Homo sapiens: one gene and its partners. The protein of the gene in region 2 purifies or fractionates together with the protein of the main gene of each other region. This does not show direct contact. Each region holds a gene or a part of one and is shown on either strand. Other genes may lie near its edges.

Region 1 (7,032 bases), on a different chromosome or scaffold from region 2:
CTGCACTCCAGCCTGGGCCACACAGTGAGACCCTGTCTCAAAAAAAAAAAAAAAATTACATGAAGAAAATCAAAATCTCAGTAATTCTTGTCTCTTATTCAGAGAAAATCTCTATTAACCTTTTGATGTGTTTCTTCTATTTTTTTCTGTGCACATATAGTTATAAAACTAATACATCACACATACAAGTATTGTCTCATATCGTTAAATATTCTTACATACATGAACTTACATAAAAATTCTTACATTTTAACCATTCTCCTATTGTTGAATATATAAGTTGATGATATGTTTTCACTGTCTAGATAAAGTTTTAACAAATGTGTTTTTGTACATACATATTTGTCTGATTTTCTATTTTTATAGGGAAAATTTTTCTAATTTTGTGGGAAAAATTCCCAGAAGGAATATTTCTGGGTCAAAGAGTATGAACATTTTTAATGCTCTTAAGACTTCCAAATTGATTCCCAGAAAGGCTAAACCAAGTTCCACTCCCACAAGCAAGATGTGAATTTGTATATTTCACTGCATGCTTATCAATCATGGGAATTATTATTAAAAATAAGGGGCTGGGCACAGTGGCACAAAACCTTAATCCCAGCTACTCGGAGACTGAGGTGGGAGCATTGCTTCAGCCCAGAAATTCAAACTTGCAGTGAGCTATGATTGTGCCAGGGCTCTCAGCCTGGGCAACAGAGTAAGGCTTTGTCTTAAAAAAAAAAAAAAAAAAAAAAAAGAAACAAAAATAAGGTTAAAACTTTTTATGTAATAATTACCCACTCAACATTTCTTATGTGCTTGTTCATGCCTCTTGTCCACTTTTCCTTTAGGATTTTAATTATTCTTATTAAATTCTATGAGATTTAAAAAATCATTTTAATCTAGTCAGCAAGCACAATACAAGACACATAATAGATGCTCCTTAAATATGCCTTGGGTTGGGCGCGGTGGCTCACTCCTGTAATCCCAGCACTTTGGGAGGCCGAGGCGGGTGGATCACCTGAGGTCAGGAGTTCGAGACCTGCCTGACCAACATGGAGAAACCCTGTCTCTACTAAAAATACAAAATTAGCTGGGCATGGTGGTGCATGCTTGTAATCCCAGCCACTCGGGAAGCTGAGGCAGGAGAATCACTTGAACCTAGGAGGCAGAGGTTGCAGTGAGCTGAGATCGCGCCATGGCACTCCAGCCTGGGCAACAAGAGCAAAACTCCATCTCAAAAAAAAAAAATGTCTTGGGTTATTAGTTAATTGTCCTGGGGACTTTTTAGGAACCAAAGCAGACTTTCTAAGAGATTGTTTCTTTTCTTTTCCTGCCCAGGACACAGCTGGGCAGGAGCGGTACCGGACCATCACAACAGCCTATTACCGTGGGGCCATGGGCTTCATTCTGATGTATGACATCACCAATGAAGAGTCCTTCAATGCTGTCCAAGACTGGTATGAGACCCATATTCATTCATTCATTTAACAAACTGTTCATTAAAACCTAACATGTGCTAGGTCCTGTATTGTGTGCTGGGGAAGCCCAGATGAATCAGACATGGTTACTGGCCTCAGGAGTTTACAGACGAGAGCAGAAGACAGATCCATAAGCAGGAATGAAAATATCATGTGATAGGCCGGGTGCAGTGGCTCACGCCTGTAATCCCAGCACTTTGGGAGGCCGAGGCAGCCAGATCACCCGAGGTCAGGAGTTTGAGACCAGCCTAGCCAACATGGTGAAACCCCGTCTCTACTAAAAATACAAAAATTAGCCAGGCGTGGTGGCACGTGCCTATAATCCCAGCTACTCAGGAGGCTAAGGCAGGAGAATTGCTTGAACCTGGGAGGCGGAGGTTGCAGTGAGCTGAGATCACACCACTGCACTCCAGCCTGGGCAACAGAGTGAGACTCTATCTTAAAAAAAAAAAAAGAAAGAAAAGAAAAGAAAATGTGTGCTAGGTGCAGTGATGAAGCGAGGCATCAGGGCTGTGGGAACCCAGCAGAGGGCTCTCTGACCCAGTTTAGGGAGTCAGAGAAAGTGCCCTGGAGTTGCTGACACATATGCTGCATTTTGTAAGATGAACAGGAGTTAGCCCGAGGGACAAATGAATAAGGATGTTCCAGAAAATGAGTACAGATGTGCAAAGGTGAGAAGGTAGGTGCGAGTGTTGAAGGGCATAGGTCATGAAGGGTTTTGTGTGCTGCTATAAGGAGTTTGGATTCTGTCCCATAGGTGATGACGTATGAATTAGAAACCAACAGGTTCACATTTGTGTTTCAGGAAGATTACTGTAGCTCCAGTGGAGAGTGAATCCACATAGCACTTAAAGTTTATCCCTGGGCTGAGCCAGGTGTCCAGGAGCACATACAGTCCAAGTTCATCAAGGCTCAATATGCAATGGAAATCAGTACAGCACCCCAGAGTTGCAACCTCTGAGCAACTTATAGCTTTCTTCCTGGGGCACGATTCCCAGGAGAAGGGAGCCTGAGGGGAAGGACACATGAGAGGGAGGGCCAGGACCCAGTGTCCCTGCTCAGATGAGGATGGGGGAAGGTGGGACATCTGTGTGGTGGCTGTCCTTCAGAATCGGAGAGGCTGAGCAGACCAGGCACACAGCAGCAGTGCTGGCCAGTGCTGGGCTTGTCTCCTTCTCCCTTTTGCCTAATGGTGACCTTCGAGGACTTCGCTTCTCCCAGGGAGCAGTTGTCATAATTGTGTTGGCTTCACATACACAGCTTGAGCTGAGAGTGACCTTGTGGGCTGCCTGCTGCACTCCCCTGTTCTGACCAGCAGTTCAGGGTGTCATCAGCATGTCTGTCATTCCTGGGGGTCTGTGTTCTCCTTTTCTGCCTCCTGGTTATCCTCTTCTTCCTCCTTTCTGTCCCTTCCTTTTAAATAACTCTTTCTTCCCTCTACCTTGGGTCTTTCTCCTCTCCTTCCTCTGTTCTCTTCCCCTTCCCTTTACTCTCTCCACTCATCATTTTCCTCCCTTCCTCCCCTCTCCCTGCTCCTCCTCTTCTCTCTCATCACATCTCCCCTGAAGTGTCTCCACGCTGCCCATTTCCCTGTTGGCCTTGACCCCCTTCCCTTCCTCCCTCAGTCTCTGTTCATTCTGCCTCAGGAACACGGTGACTTTAACACCTGGTGACGATTCCTCCAAGAATAACCTGAGTTTGTTGCTAACCTGGGAGCTGAGAGGAAATGGGGTGGGAGAAGGGAGGAAGATGAAAGAAAGAGTAGCATGGGAGATAAGGAGAGCTGGCCCCAGTTACCTGCCTTGAGTCTGAAGACTGAGGGTCTATCTCTCCCAAGCCCTGGCCTTTGAGTTTTGTCTGTGGGTAACTTGGTCTCAGTCTCACCCCTACCTGCCATCCAAGCCCCAGTGCCCAGAATGGGGCCTGGTTTCCTGTGGGCCCACAAGAAGTGGTGGTTGAGTGAATTCCATCCTTTGAGGGAATGGCTTCTCACCATAAATGAGAAGGTTGGTGGTAAGATCAACTTTAAGAGCAGGGTCAGTAGTAGGTTCAGGTTGCAGTTAGGGTTGAGTTAGGTTGTCAGTGTCAGGGTAGAGTCAGATTCAAGATCTGCTTCAGGACTGACCATTCACTGGCTCGTTCATTTATCAGCATTCACTGACACCTTCTTCGCTGTGTGTTCTGTGCTGGGTATTGGCATCCCAAAGATGAATAGGCCGGTCCTTGCCCTCAGGGAGAGAGACAAATTCAGCCAAGTGTAATAGGTGTCATGGTGAACGTGCAGGAGACCAAAAGAGGAAGTAATCATTTCTACCTGATGGGGTCTTTGGGGAATGTTAGGCCCATCTCCACAAAAAGATGTCTTCATAATATAAGAGAGTCCTTTTTTATTTCCTCTTAAAATTTTGTTTTTAATTAAAGAAGTAATACATGCTCACTTTTAAAAATGTGAAAAGTACAGAAATTTGAAAAGGTTTTTTTTTTTTTTTTTTTTTTTGAGATGGAGTCTCGCTCTGTCACCCAGGCTGGAGTGTAGTGATGCGATCTTGGCTCACTGCAAGCTCCACCTCCCGGGTTCACGCCATTCTCCTGCCTCAGCTTCCTGAGTAGCTGGGACTACAGACGCCTGCCACCATGCCCAGCTAATTTTTTTTTTTTAATTTTTAGTGGAGACGGGGTTTCACCATGTTAGCTAGGATGGTCTCGATCTCCTGACCTCGTGGTCCGCCCACCTCGGCCTCACAAAGTGCTGGGATTACAGGCGTGGGCCAGCGCACCCGGCCAAAAAGTATTTTTTAAAAGTCTTATAATCATCTTATATGAAGGTAACCACTGCTGACATTTTGGTTCCTGCAAATAATCATAATCCGAGGCTTCAGGGAAGGTTTATGAATCACATAGGAGGAGGTGGAGGCTAAGTGGATCTAGGAGAAGCTTGAAGAGGCTCCCCTCAAGGTGTTGTGGGATCAGCACTGGGCCCTGGAGGATGAGTTAGTTGTGGGGAAGGACTTCCCAGTGTAGGCAAAAGCACAAGCCATGGAAGAGCTTTTGGGGAATGAGTAAAAAGGTTAGGGAGGCAGGAGAATGGGTAATGAGGCTGGAGAGACACAGCATGAGTGATCTTGAACTGAGGAATCTGGACTTGATCACATAGCTAGCTGGGGGCCAGAGAAGGCTTTTAAGAAAAGATTCATTGTGATCAAATACCTGTTTTAGAAAGACCTCTCTGCCCAGTGAGGAGAGGGATGGCCAGATATGGTAGAGGTGGACTTCAAAAAGATGGATGAGGTTTGCAGCTAGGGCTTAGGAGTCAGCATCTGTGACAGCCAGCAGGGACAGGTATCTGTCTGTCCTCAGCTGAATTAATTGGCAATAACTTGGATGTTGCTAGTCCTGTGGAAGAGAAACCATTTCTTCACACTTCACAGTTTTCTTTTTGTCATAGGAGGGTATGTGTCTTGGTCAGTTTGGGCTGCTATAACAAGAATACTATAGACTTGGTAGCTTAAATAACGGACATTTCTTTCTCACAGTTCTGGAGCTAGGAAGTCCAAGATCAAGGTGCCAGCAGCTCCAGTATCTGGAGACAGCCAGCTTCTTGTTGTATCCTCCCATGGCCAAGAGAGAAAGAGGGCTCTAGCCTCTTTCTCTTCTTATATGGACACATTTATTAGGACTCTAGCCTCATTGACATAATTACATCCCGAAGACTCCACCTCCAAATACCATTACATTGGGGATTAGGCTTCAACATGTAAATTTGGAGGTGGGGACACAGACATTCAGTCTATAGGAATATGATTAACATATCTCTTTCTATCTCATTTTAGGGCTACTCAGATCAAGACCTACTCCTGGGACAATGCACAAGTTATTCTGGTGGGGAACAAGTGTGACATGGAGGAAGAGAGGGTTGTTCCCACTGAGAAGGGCCAGCTCCTTGCAGAGCAGCTTGGTATGTACATGACACATGTATGTGCATGTGTGCATTTGTACACATGCTCATGAGAGTGGGGTAAACAGGGTACGAGTGTGTTTGTATTTATGACATTAGTGTTGTGATTGTGAATTATGTACCTATGTGATCTGTGTGTATTGTTTTATATTTGTATGAGGTACATATGGGCTTTGTGCTGTGAGTTTTAGATAATTCATCATTTTTGATATGTATATATTTTGTTATATTGAATGTGTAAATAAATTTTAAATTTATAAACTCTTTTTTTTTACCAGTTCCTTCCACAAAGGACTTGAGATATCTTATAAAAATGGTCACAATACAACAATAAAAATAAATAAGTAAGTGAGAAAATTGGAGCAAAGGGAAAGCAAGGGTGAGGGAAAAATAAGAGGAAGCTAGGGTAAGTATTAAGTTCTTGGACACCTGCAAGAGTTGGGGCCAAAATGTTGTCTTTGAGCTTCCTAGCAACCTTTGCCAAGAGGGAAACATAATCAGCTACATGGTTTAGAGTGTCCTAGTATAAAAACAAACCCATTATTCCAGAGAAGCACTACTCTTCATCATCAACTGTAGAGCAGACTCTGTATGCTGAATGTGACCATGTCTTGAATATCAAACATCCTTCCAGCACTGAGTATTTATATGCTGTTCTTACAGTTTATCTCAATGCAAATTCATGCTTCTCACCAAAACACAATTCACAACAAAAGTAATAGTATGAAGGAACAAAACTATGTGGTTTGAGTATGTAGCTCATCGGTGTCCTGACTTTTTCCAAGCTTAACATATTTTGATCCTTGTGCTCCTTTGAGGCCTAGGTGCCCAGGCATGTCTCAGTGGCCCCAAAGCAGAACTCTACCTACCTTTGCTTAAAAGAAGAGCTTTTATTTTATGTATTGGGGTCCAGGGTAAGGTTGCCTTACAAAAAGAGTTCCATGCCTGTAGGTTTGAAAGTTTGAAATCTTCCTCTAGAATAGATGTACTGCTTAGCTTTTAGACAGTCTCCCTAAGTATATCTCACATCCTTAGTGTTGTAAGTATTGAGGAGTGGAGAGTTTAAAGTCTCTGACAGTTTCTGAAGAACAGATATTTGGGCTTATAGGTGGGTAATCTGTATAAAATACAAGTGTGAATTGTGTGTTTTATATATTTGTATTATGAGTATGTGGGTGTGTGTGTGTTGTATACTTTTTTCTCCCCAAGGTGTCCTGTAAACTGTAGCAAACTATAAGTGCTTAATAAACAGGGAGGTTGGGTCATCTTGGGCCTTGCTGTCTCTACACTATCACAGAGGTTCTCAGAGTCCAGAAAGTGCCTCCATGTGGTCCATTGACCAATAAGCAAGTGATGAAGCCCACACCTGGTGAACTTTAGACGGTCCCTTTAGGCTTTCAACCTGTAGTCTCCCTGGAGGCTCCCAGCACTCTCCCTGGACTGACTATATTTCATCTGCTTGGAATGCTCTCTTCTACTCCCCATCTTCTACCCTCATCCAGCTGGTGAGACCCCACTCAGCTTTCAAAACAGCTTACACTTCACATCTTCTATGAAACCTTTCCCAGCCCCCTGCCAGAGCTCTTTATTTGTTCTCTCAATGCACCCCATACGTAA
Region 2 (7,032 bases):
AACATATAAAACTATTATGGTACCAGGCATAGAATAAACTTCAGCTAATTTATTTGTTTCAGGAATCCAAATAACCATTTTGCCTTAGACTTTTAAGGGCAAATATTTACATAATTAGGAAAACGCTAAGCAAAATCATAAAACAAGAAGAACATCCTGTGTCTTCTCACTTAACCTTCAATTAATCTTTTCTCCCTTTCTGACTCTGATGACTCTCCCAGTCCCCTCCCATTAGTGCTTTCATGCCTGTCCAGACTGCTCTCCACATGTCCTTGCCCCTCTCTCCACAGCACCTCACCTAGTAAAACTTCCCTCAAATACGCCTCAGGCTCTGGAACTACCTTTCCACTCTACCATACACAGCTTACCTGCCTGGAACGCCCCTGGAAGTCCCACTGGCTAGCTTTCTCATAGCTGAATTCTCTCCAGAACACAAATTGCTAATAATGGCTATATGTATGATCACGTTCCTTCTCTCAGGAGTGTGTCCATTTTAAGAGGGGTATGCCGTGTCTTGACCCCAAAGGTATGACTATATTGATGTCATTCCAGATAAGCTGGCACTGGGGCAATACTCTAGGGGCAATGGCATCATCTTTGCATTCCTTGAACGTATTCACAGGGTTTGTGCTTTAAAGCTGGACACTTATATATCCACTAAAGAAAGTCTTGACCTCACATTCACTGTACAATAAAGCATGCCTCTACCCACTATTTCAGTACGTTAAATCAGACAACTTCAGCATTTAGAGGCTCCAAAGTGTACTGCATGACTGAAATCTGTAGCATGAAGATCACAGCTGCAATCACTTCTAATGCTTTAAAGATTTGGAATCTTCAACTGAACAAATGGCAGTTATTTAACATGTTTAAATAATTGTAGCTTTTGGTCAGTAAAATCTATCTTTCTAAGACTATATAAGCAATATTTATTCTATAATTGTGCTTTCCATTTTAAAAGTTTTTCCAAGACAAAGATAATTCTTCATGCAGCTAAGAGCTGGTGTTTAGGAGAGTTTACACATAACAGAAGTTTCTCATTAATATTTAAGTTTTCTTAGATCTGTAGACAAGGCAGAAATTTCTAGAGAAATTATGAAAATATGACATTTTTTGTTACCGCTGCAGAAAATACTATAGCTAACCACATGGGTTTTACTCATTTCAGAATTAGGCAAAATCACAGTGTTGTAAGCAAGACAAAAAGCAAGTGGGGTTCTCTACTTGTTGCGTAAATTTTTTAAAGTATAATGTAATAAAACTTAATTCAATACCTTTGAACATTGTATATTTGAAAAACACTAGTAGTAAATGGCATTTCTGTGGTTGTCATCAAATTTGTCTCATTGTAGGTGCTGTTACAGCCTTGGATATCAAGGTGCAATGGCAATGTTCTCTCAGGAAGTGGAGGATATATTTGAGCTCCAATTCCAACCCATAGAGAAATGGCAAATCCAGCCATCAGACCAACAAGTGCTCCCTGTAAAACAAGAATGCCTTTAAAAGAAAAATAATACAATTTGCTTTGATGTCAAAATTAATATTAGAAAGCCAAGTTCAACATGGCACGAAATTATAAAACTCACAAGGGCAGAAACATTCAACGCTCTCTCCTCCCAAGATAGTGCTCAGCCCATAAAAATCTATTGAATAAATGAACAAGTGAATAAATGAATGAAAGGTATTGAGGCAGGGAGAGAAAAAGGAGTGAGAAAGGCCACTTTTAAGGAAGGCAGATAATCTGCTGGTGAAAAACCTGGACATGGTTTAAAAAAAAAAAAGATACTGTTTATGGCAGGAAGAATAGTATGTTATTCTTCCGTTACCGCCCCCAGAAAAGGACATGTTAGCTTAGTCAGCTACAGCTCTTCCGGAGGAAATACACGCTGGCAACAAATGCCAAATATCAAAAGTTGATTTTTAAATACATTTTTCTAATACTTAACAAACTAATGCATTTCATCACGCAAAGAATCTAATCCAAGCTTCAACATTCTGAGGTGGACACAAACAAATCTCTTTCATTGTGATTAATTCCTACAAAAGCAGCTTTTCATATGACATTTCATTGAGGATAATAAATAATAACCACAATAGTCCTTATTAATATCTGCCTTACCAATTCCTAATGCCTTATAAGGAAAATAGAATTCCAAATGTGAAGTCAGAGTTCTATGGCTATTCTATATCTGAAGCGACTGCACATACATTATCAGTTTTTCCTGAACTACATCTTATAGCCAGACTGAACCAGTGGACTTTCTTCTGGGTTTCAGAGAAATAATTTCTAGCTCATTTATTCCAAACAAAAGTTAGCACTTCTAAGCACAGATATGTCTAGGTAGAAGGACAGAGATATTACGTCTTTCTGGAAAATATTCCCAATTATGATCACCCCTTTGGGGCTAAATCATGTTGTGGGAGCTACAGCTTTAAATGTCAGGAGTAGAAAATTCCTGGCCAAGGTGGTAAGATTGTGTTCCTTCTCTTTGCTGTGCTATGGCTATTCACAGAAATCCTAAGTTTTCTGCCCTTAAATCTCTCATCTCTGAGCCTATTGATCTCTTTTAAATCCTAGCTATTAATTTTTGAGAAGGGCAAGTAGGTACGTGCATAAAAATGTTGCTCCTTTAGTTATATTATGAATATTTAAAATTGCCCTATATGGTTCTGGAAGTTTCCATTGAGCTTCACACATTTAGGGTCCCCATACATAGTACTTCCTTGTACACTCCACCAAAGTCAACAGAAATAATTTAAGTCATCAAGACAAGTAGCTAATGACAAATCTCAAAGGAACCAACTGAGAAAAAAGTGTAGAGCTGCTAGTATAGTTCAAAAAGTAATCCTCAAGCATATTCATTCTTTGTACTTACAATTGAGTTGGCAAAGGGAACCAAAATGCCCAAAGCGAACAGGCCCATAAGTGGTCCACCAACCATACCAAATACGCTGAGTGCTGCCTACAAAAATAATACAACGTCAGCAATTAGCAATCTCAAATCGAAACTCAAATATTTCAAAGTCATTTCATCAGGATAATGACTTAAAGTATTCGGCCTCCTTCTGAAAATCATAGTTTCAGTCATGATAGCCTTATCACTGGAAAAGAAGTCATTAGAACTTACAAGTTTCTGCATCTCAGTCTCAAGGATCCATCTGTTTCTGCAAGTAGCCTCAAAAAAGGCCACACAACACAAAGAAGATAGAGAGGTCTGCGACAATGGTAGTGCCTATGTGAATGTATAAATCATGAATGATACCTCTCCTCTTAGCATTGCTCTTGCAGGTGTTTATAAATCACAGCACTCCTTTGTGCTTTGATAATCTCAAAATCCTCTCATAACGGTGGACGAGTACTGCTATGTGACCAGAGAGGAGGATGAAACCCATTTGCCATTCCTGATTTGATTCCCTAAGGATGAAACTAGAATGAGAAATACGATTTTAAAAAGACTGATCAAATCATGTAGAAATAGATTTAAAATCTAATTAGATAACTGCAACCTTTGCTTTGATGTAGAGATATCAAATCCATGATAGTAAAAAAGATTTACAGTGCAAACATCGCATGAGGCAAAGCAACTAAATGAAGCTTCCAAGAGATATACGTTCCCAATAATCTAATGCCCAGTTCTTAAGAATGGACACAACCATAAAAGAAGAGCAGGGAATCACTGGTTTGTCCAGAGAGTAAAGGGGTTTAATAGAGCAGAATGAATGAATCAAAGAGAAAATACCAAGTCAGGGAAATATTAGAGGAAATAGTGCTTCTTGTTGTCGTTGTTGTTTTAAATAGGCCTACTTCATGGAAGAAGAAAAGGATGTGGTACTGAGTAGAGAGGAGAACTAGTGTTTAAAAGGATGCGGACTCAAGGATGTGATCCTGAGTCAGTTTACACACAGTCCAGTCAGAAGGGAGATAGACTTCACTGCAAGACGTCATATGACCCACAAAGCAAGTGATGACTGTGTGATCTGTGAGCAGTTTTGGAGACATAACAAAGACACCCAAAAAAGATTACAAGAGGAAATAAGACCTTGGCTAGAGATGAAGCAAGGATGAACTGGCTTGGAGTTATGATGACTTTGCTAGAACATGTCATTGTATATAATCAGGCCATAGCTGATATATGGAAAAAGGGGAATCAACCACAATAAGAGCTCCAGGCACTAATGCAGACTATGAAGAAAGCAAATTCTGTATGACTGGCTGTGGTTTAGGAGTGCTGGGCAGGCTTGGAGCTTCTGGATCTAATTCATTCATTCATATAATCAGGGATGGGGTCAAACTATTTTACAACTGCTATGTCCTAAACAACAACCAACCAGAATGGCCCCAAGCCTTAGGACTGAAGAAAGATCCTGGAGGACCCCTGCTGTGCCAGTACTAGCCTTTAAGTTTCTAGGTCAAGGGGAGGTCCAGGATCCCAGAGGAGCAGCCCAAGTGGCCAAGGAAATTTCAGGGAGCACTTGGGGTCATCAGATAATAGGATATTTATGAGCCTAACTACATTATTAGTTAATATTCAAGCTAAAGTTGTTAATGTCTTGCTTTGTCCTGGGCACTGCAGTAGGAACCAGATATTTGATACAGGATTGAACAACGAAGTCATCTTCCCCACCTTCATGAATTACAGGCTATTCAGTAAAACAGACACTAAATAAATAACTGTAATACAGTTTGATAATGGAGATGATAAAGAAAGTACAAGGTGCTTCTAGAAACATTTAGCAGAAGGGAATGCAAATGTATCCAGGTAATAGGAAAAGTCTCTTTAAATAAGTAATGTGTTAAAATGAAAACTGAAGAATAACTAAGGCTTAGGCAGTGGACGAGGTAGAGAGGAAGGTGTTGCAGGCAGAGGGAGAAGTCTATGCCAAGGCCTGCGTGTTGAAGACAGTGAGGTGCCCACAGGGTTCAGGAAGAAGACACTGTTGTAAAGATTGGTCTGTCCTCTCCAGGCCCACAGCTCCACAGGAACAGGAGGGAGCTTTCCAACACAAAAATGCTCTCTAATCAGAAGAGCAAACGCCACAGGAGGTGAAAGACCCTTCAGGTAAATAAACAAATTTTTTTTAATGAAGTATTTCTACTTCTGAGAAGATAAACATATGTTTCTCTATTCCTCCTACTAATAAAATTAAAAATCCTGACATTCCATATAAAATAAACATAAGAAGACTCTGAAAGGTGCAAAGAAGGCAGCCCGCTAGGGACCCTGGACCTGAAGAATGGTACAGGGTGAGTTCCCTAAGTTTTCTTTTTGCTTCATGTATCCCAGCCTGAGAACTGAAGAAGCCAGCCAGCCTGGAAATGGCAACAGACACAGGCAAAAAAACTTTAAAAAGATAAAAAGCCCTCACAAAATCCTGTTCTCTCTCTAGACACAGGGCCAGGAAAGGAGCAGCCTAGGAAGATAGAAAACTCTTAGACCCCAACCGCTCCATTCCATCCGAACACCACAGAATAATCTGTTCACCCCACCCACACCCATGCCAGCCTAGATTCCATCCCCCCAGACTGTCACCAGGCACCCTTTGCCTCCCTGCTGGCAATGACATGGGAGGCCTAGTGGAGAATCGGGACTTTCACCATGGCCCAGCAGTGACAAAGCCACCTCCTCCATGATGTCAGTGAATTCCACCCTGTGGTGCTCGCGTGTTTCGGGTGGTCCTAGTTAACCAGCTTCCCAGGGAAGCCTCTTCCCTTGAGTTCGCTTTGCATCATTGTTGAGTCTTGTACACCGTCTGATGCTCATGCATTTTATTCTGGCAGTGCTCTTACCAGAAGAATAGCAGGAGCAGGATGGTGTCGTGGGCCAGATTTAGTCACAGGTTAGATGACTGACAGACCAGGAGGGTTTTCATCTAGAGACCTTTCTCAGAGTTTAGGGGATCCTTCCTCCTTTCTTATACTTGTATTCAATCCAGGTCAGTTACCAGGTGTTTTGTTCACAAAGAGAGATTAAGCTATGCTTGTAAGGGTAAGCTTTGTTCCAAGGTTTGTGAAAATTGCATCGTGCTGAGGTGACCTGGTCTCCTGGAAATCTGGTTGGAAATCCCCGGCCAGGTTGCTTCATACTGCTAAGTTTGACAGATAGGACTGACCCTCTGAGTTGCTTGAGTGGCCTTATGCCTATCATTAATCTTATAGCCATAATATATCTCATTGTATACCACACTCCACCCCTGACCCTGAGGGGGTCAATAATTGAGAGGCTGCCCAAGTTTGAAAGTGCGCTCCATGGTCAGTCAAATCTTGAGAAATGGATCTTCTGTAGGACGGTGAGTAGGAGTTGGTGGCGCCCTTGGAAAAACCTGGAAATGAACTGTATCATCACAGAGAGGATACAGTAGATCTAGTGTCCAGCTGAGCAGTTAGGGGAGATCATGAGAATGGGGTTCGGCTGTGGCTTTGGGGCAGACTCGCCAATGATGGGGGAAGAGTGGAGGACAGGTAGCGACCAAGTCTGGACGGGAAGCAATGGATGTGTGGCAGGCCAATGAAGGCATGCCCAGCAGGCTGGAAGGTTAGCTGCTCAGTGGGTGGCCAAAATGTGGTGGAGGCTGTCAGTGACCTCAGTGCCAAGTAATTGGTGAATAGGTCTGGAGAAGCCACAGTTGGATGTGGAAAGTCAGGCCACCCGGAGTAGCAGCAAAAGAACACGGGCACACTGGGGCTTGGAAACACGATTACATGAGCAGGTGAAAGGAGTTGAATGGACTCAGTGGTAGCAGGCTTAGAGTTGCTTGATTACAGAGCAATGACAGGTGAAAATGGAACAGAAGGATAAGGAGGACACAGAACTAAGCAATTAGGTCTGGGGACACTGTGTGTGCTGAGGTGCTGTCAAAGATCCAAAATCGTGATCTTGAACACGGCCCGATGAAGCCAAAGTTCAAGGTGTTGTCCATTCCAGATGGCTGTCAGGCACAGCTGGGGCACCAAGTGTCTCTAGGAGGCACTGGCTGCAGGAACAGTGGTGGCCCAAGAGACCCCTAGGCAAATATACCAGTAAAGGTCTTGCC
Region 3 (5,079 bases), on a different chromosome or scaffold from region 2:
TTAGTTGAGCTATTTATGTATAAGTAAATGAGATGACAGGAAGCTGTAACTGAGCACAAAGTACTTTAGGGAGCAGCCACACATACAGGAAGCTCTTAGAAAAGAACTTTTTTTTTTTTTTGAGACAGAGTTTCACTCTTGTTGCCCAGGCTGGAGTGCAGTAGCGCAGTCTCGGCTCACTGCAACCTCTACCTCCTGGGTTCAAGCAAGTCTCCTGTCTCAGCCTCCCAAGTAGCTGGGATTACAGGCATGTGCCACCATGCCCAGCTAATTTTGTTTTTTTTTTAGTCGAGACGGGGTTTCACCATGTTGCTCAGGCTGGTCTTGAACTCCTGACCTCAAGTGATTCACCTGCCTCGGCCTCCCAAAGTGCTGGGATTACAGGCGTGAGCCACTGCGCCCGGCCAAAAAGAACATTTTGTCAATCTGAACAGAGCACAGAACATTTTTTCAGACTGAACAGACTGTTGGACCAGCCTGTCATGATATGTTTTAGATAAAGTTTGAGTGAGTTCATTGGGATAAATGGTCCACAATCTTAAACAGAATACTGTGAGCCAATGCCTTTTGGAAGTAATGGTGGAGGATAATATGATTAAAGGGAACATGCTTGTGTTTATTTTTGTTGGTAGTATATGATTAGAAAAACTAGATAATTCCCATAAGATGAAGATCTTCCATGAACAAACTACCATCAATCATCCATCAGATTGATTTTTTTTTTTTTTTTAAGTAACACTAAAGAAGCTGTAAAGAACATTGAAGGTGGTCATTCCTTCAAAACTGTGTTTTGACCACACAAGGTGGGCATTAACAAACCAAATTTCAACTTAAGTTTGTTTGTATTATATTGGGGGTGCTGCGAGACTGGAGATTTTATAAAAGCAAGCATTTTTATTTCCATTTATAATTTCTATTCAATATTGCTAGATATATTAACATGAAGGAATGGGGAAGCTTATTTCAATCAAAGCTAAAATTTTCAGAAGTCTGTAAAAATGGAAAAACACCATTGAAAGAGGCAGAAACAGGTAAGGGGGATAGTATCTTAGAAAACCTGTTGGTTAAGGCAGCTGCATGTGATAAAAGTGGTACTTGAACTTGGTAGTGTTTCCTTAGAACCTCCTCCAAAAATATGCATTTACCAGGCTTGTTACAATTTTTTGACAGTTTTTCATCAACTGTCAAAAACTTCAACCCTTTTAAAACCTAGATATAAATGCTTACATGTAAAGAAAGGAAGCTAAGCAGTGGGTACCTGGGATCTCTCTGAACTATTTTTATAACTTCTTGTGAGTCTTAAGTATTTCAAAATAAAAGTGGTTTTAAAGTAAATTCATAGATTAAATGTATCATTATCTATATATAAACCATGATTTAAAACTTTAATTTTCTAAACATAGTATTCAACTTAGTTGAATAAATATATGATAGAAGTTAAATAGAATTTTTATTTCATTCTTAAGAAAAACTCATGTTTGTAACAAATGATATCTAAAGATCTATTTTGCCTTACCAGAAAAGAAAAAAAAAACCCTAAAACCAAAAACTCCTTTTCCCTAGGAAGTCAAAAATGCTGTGATTTAAAATATCTAATTATATTTTTTTCTTTCTATGGTAGTGGGGTTTACTTCTGAGGATAAAATATTTTGAAAAAGCTCTGTCCCTTGACATGGTAGTTCTCCCGTGCCTTGTACTTGTTCTCTCTCCATATGCACAGTGTGACAAGATGCTCACCTTTAATGAAGAAGGTGTAGCTTTTCGTTTTAAGCTGTAATTGTCTTTGTCTTGATTTGGCTATTTTTATAACTGAAATCCTGAGCAACAGAGATAATTTGGGTGGTAATGATCATCTTTTGTATATGTTCTTGATGTTAAGAAATATTTTTTGCTGCCATTCAGCTTTGTGGAATTTATGTTTACTTTTCAATATTTTCATATTTCTTAACCAGATTTTAAAGAAATTTGTTGTTAGTTACGTGAAATCAAAGGTCAGGTCAGTAAGCCCATTATCCTCAAACTTGAAGTTTCGTTGGATGTTCAAAATGCTAATTTTTGCAGAGATATAAGGATAAATTAGTTTTAGTTTGTGTTCTTAAGGGTTTGCAAAATAATTTGGCTCCCAAACTCTTGTTGGGGTGTAGTGTTTGCTAGGAGCCCAGGATACCTGCCCTGGACTTAAATTGTGATTGAAGTGGAGAGGTACTCTAGGAATTTAAAAAGACACAAAATTATTTTTTTCCAGACTAGTGTGCCATGGATTTCTGATAAGAATTAACATTCTTGAACAAAGGTATCAGAAAGGGTAACTCGAGTTGAAGGTTTGTGAATAGAAGGGGAAATGTGATAGAAGATTATTCAGAACAAAATAAGTAGACAAAATAACAAAAGACAGGAAAATAAGTCTCTTTGTATCCTTATTAATCATTTGAAATTATGCTATAATATTTTTTAAAACTCACCTGTTTGGTTCTGGGTGAAGCAGTTCCTGAAGGAGTGTTTTGTCAGAATATATTGTTAGGAGAATAGAGGGTTCTGTGGCCAAGTAAGTTTGGGAAATAGTGGGTTAGACAAAGTTGAGTTACTGTTGGCCTTTCAGACCTTTGATACGCTAATGTGCATTTTAAATCTCCAAGAAGCACCTCTATTTTATACATCATTTCCCTAATTTATTTTAATATGGATTTCTTGTTTTTGTTTTCTTGAGACGGAGTCTTGGTCTTGTCACCCAGGCTGGAGTGCAGTGGCACGATCTCGGCTCACTACAACCTCCGCCTCCCAGGTTCAAGCGATTCTCCTGCCTCAGCCTCCCAATTTACTGGGATTACAGGCACCTGCCACCACGCCCAGCTAATTTTTGTATTTTTAGTAGAGATGGGGTTTCACCATGTTGACCAGGCTGATTTTGAACTCCTGACCTCAGGTGATTCTGCCCGCCTCACCCTCCCACAGTGCTGGAATTATAGGTATGAGCCACTGTCCCCGGCCAGATTTTTTTAAAAGTAGGTATCTTGTGGGATTTATGTTCTGAGAGATACACCTAAGGAAATGCTGCCCTACAGTGTTTTTGCTAGTTCATACTCATTACAAAGGTTTCTTGTTGTTGGGTGCCCCTCTAGCCAGTGGTAGTAAAATGGGAAGAGACAGGTCAAGACTCCCTTGGACCATGGCATTGAGAGAGGGATGGCTGTCGGCATAGATATGTTGGTTATTTAGGCATTTGTGAGGGAGGCCCCTGGCTCTTCCAGCCTGTTTCCTTAGGATCCCAGTTGGCCGGGAACAGCTGTACAAGGGTCTGCTGAACTGGTGGTTTCAGCAGACTACCCAGTTCCTAAGCATCCATGAGACAGAGGGAACCAACTTGTATTTCCAGAACAATTTTCCAAACCTTTTCTGGCTGTACTTTAAAAGTGCCAAAAAGGCAATGGGTGTTTATGACACTAAAGTCACATACAAGCTAGTATGATACATACATCATAGAAAGCTTATAGTTGCTCAGTGACAAAGCAAAGGAAGTTTAATATTTTCCAGTTTTGTTCATTACCGAAGACAGTCTACGGTTCATAGTTTTCACTAAATTCTAAGCAGATTCTATATCCTAAAACATTTAAACCTCACTAGGCCTGCAATTTTGAGAGGGTTAGCTAAATATGTTTGGTATCACTTCAGAGTCTAAAACCAGATTACTAATCGTGTGTAAGGAGGCATTTTGTGTGTCTTTGCAATGTATACAATTGGATTATTTGGAACACCATTTTGAATGTGTATTTGAGAGAAAGCTCGCCTGTGGGTTTTGAGTTGTGGTGTAATGGTGAACATGTAGCCACGTGAAAGGCCGTTGGATCTTTGTTCTGATTCTTCAGTCGTCTTCTTGCAAATTCAGAGAAATGTCTTTTAATCATTTCGTTTACATATCCCAGATCCTTGGAAATCATGAAAAATAACTTGCCAGAGTTTGCATCAGCCCTCAGTAAGTCATGAACCATAGAGAAGGTCATGGGGCCATTTATTCTTTGGACCACTGGCTACTTCTGAAGTTCTGGCTTCCTTCTCTCTAGGAGGAGTCGTGTATTCAAGCTTTTAAGTTAAATGCATAAAAATGAGTTTTACTTCTCTTCTGACTTGATTTTTAATTTTATGAAATGGGAAATAATGTTTTTCCATTTTTCTGTTCATTTTGAAGTGGGAATTTGAGGTGTTTGTAATGTCATGTTACTGTTCTGAAAGATTGACAGTAAAGAAGACAAGAAATATATGTATGTAGTATGCATATTAGTTTTGTCCCACCAAGCCTATCTTTGAATGGCAAACATTTTAAAAACATCTGTTCTAGTTGCACAACTACTCTAGCTTCTTTATAAAGTAAACAATCTTAAAGTAAGCAATGTTGGCCATAATTTCAATATTCTAGCCTTGCCGAGTGTGAATATATTTTACTCAGAGACTATGTACAAATACACTAAAGTGGTGATGGTGATCAATATTGTAAAGAATTTATTCTGATAAATGAGAAACTGGATATAATGTCAAAATAGCTATTTTCTCAATAAAAATCTCAAATCTCCTGACTGCTTATGAATTCTCGATTTAATGTTATTTATTCTTTGAGGTAAATCTTTTCATCGCGAAGAATTTTTTGCTGGTTGAATGTGGTTGTTCAGGGCTGGGACTGAGCTATAGACATAGTGGGTTTTTAAAAAATGTCCATTCTTTTTTTTTTTTTTTGAGACAGAGTTTTGCTCTTATCACCCAGGCTGGAGTGCAATGGTGTGAACTCGGCTCACTGCAACCTTCGCCACCTGGGTTCAAGCAATTCTCCTGCCTTAGCCTCCCAAGTAGCTGGGATTACAGGCACCTGCCACCTTACCCGGCTAAATTTTTTTTTTTTTTTTTTGGTATTTTTTTTTTTTTTTTTAAGTAGAGACGGGGTTTCACCATGTTGGCCAGGCTGGTCTTGAACTCCTGACCTCAGGTGATCCACCCGTCTCGGTCTCCCAGAGTGCTGGGATTACAGGCGTGAGCCACCGTGCCTGGCCAGAAAATGTCCATTCTTTCTGTTATGTGTTGAGACCACTTGTG

What was found.
Region 1: the proteins of SLC5A8 (region 2) and RAB3B purify together in Homo sapiens (affinity purification with mass spectrometry; 2 studies listed by BioGRID and IntAct, with this or other methods). This does not show direct contact.
Region 3: the proteins of SLC5A8 (region 2) and MTX3 purify together in Homo sapiens (affinity purification with mass spectrometry; 2 studies listed by BioGRID and IntAct, with this or other methods). This does not show direct contact.

Annotation. Positions count from the first base shown.
Region 1 is NC_000001.11:51,931,701-51,938,732, reverse strand, and holds part of RAB3B (ras-related protein Rab-3B), read left to right. Parts: intron 1-1,320; coding exon 1,321-1,439; intron 1,440-5,290; coding exon 5,291-5,415; intron 5,416-7,032. UniProt on the Homo sapiens protein: The small GTPases Rab are key regulators of intracellular membrane trafficking, from the formation of transport vesicles to their fusion with membranes.
Region 2 is NC_000012.12:101,165,220-101,172,251, forward strand, and holds part of SLC5A8 (sodium-coupled monocarboxylate transporter 1), read right to left. Parts: intron 2,964-7,032; coding exon 2,877-2,963; intron 1,644-2,876; coding exon of another isoform or gene 1,629-1,643; exon of another isoform or gene 1,490-1,628; intron 1,481-1,489; coding exon 1,275-1,480; intron 1-1,274. UniProt on the Homo sapiens protein: Acts as an electrogenic sodium (Na(+)) and chloride (Cl-)-dependent sodium-coupled solute transporter, including transport of monocarboxylates (short-chain fatty acids including L-lactate, D-lactate, pyruvate, acetate, propionate, valerate and butyrate), mocarboxylate drugs (nicotinate, benzoate, salicylate and 5-aminosalicylate) and ketone bodies (beta-D-hydroxybutyrate, acetoacetate and alpha-ketoisocaproate), with a Na(+):substrate stoichiometry of between 4:1 and 2:1.
Region 3 is NC_000005.10:79,976,216-79,981,294, reverse strand, and holds the end of MTX3 (metaxin-3), read left to right. Parts: 3' UTR 1-4,579; downstream 4,580-5,079.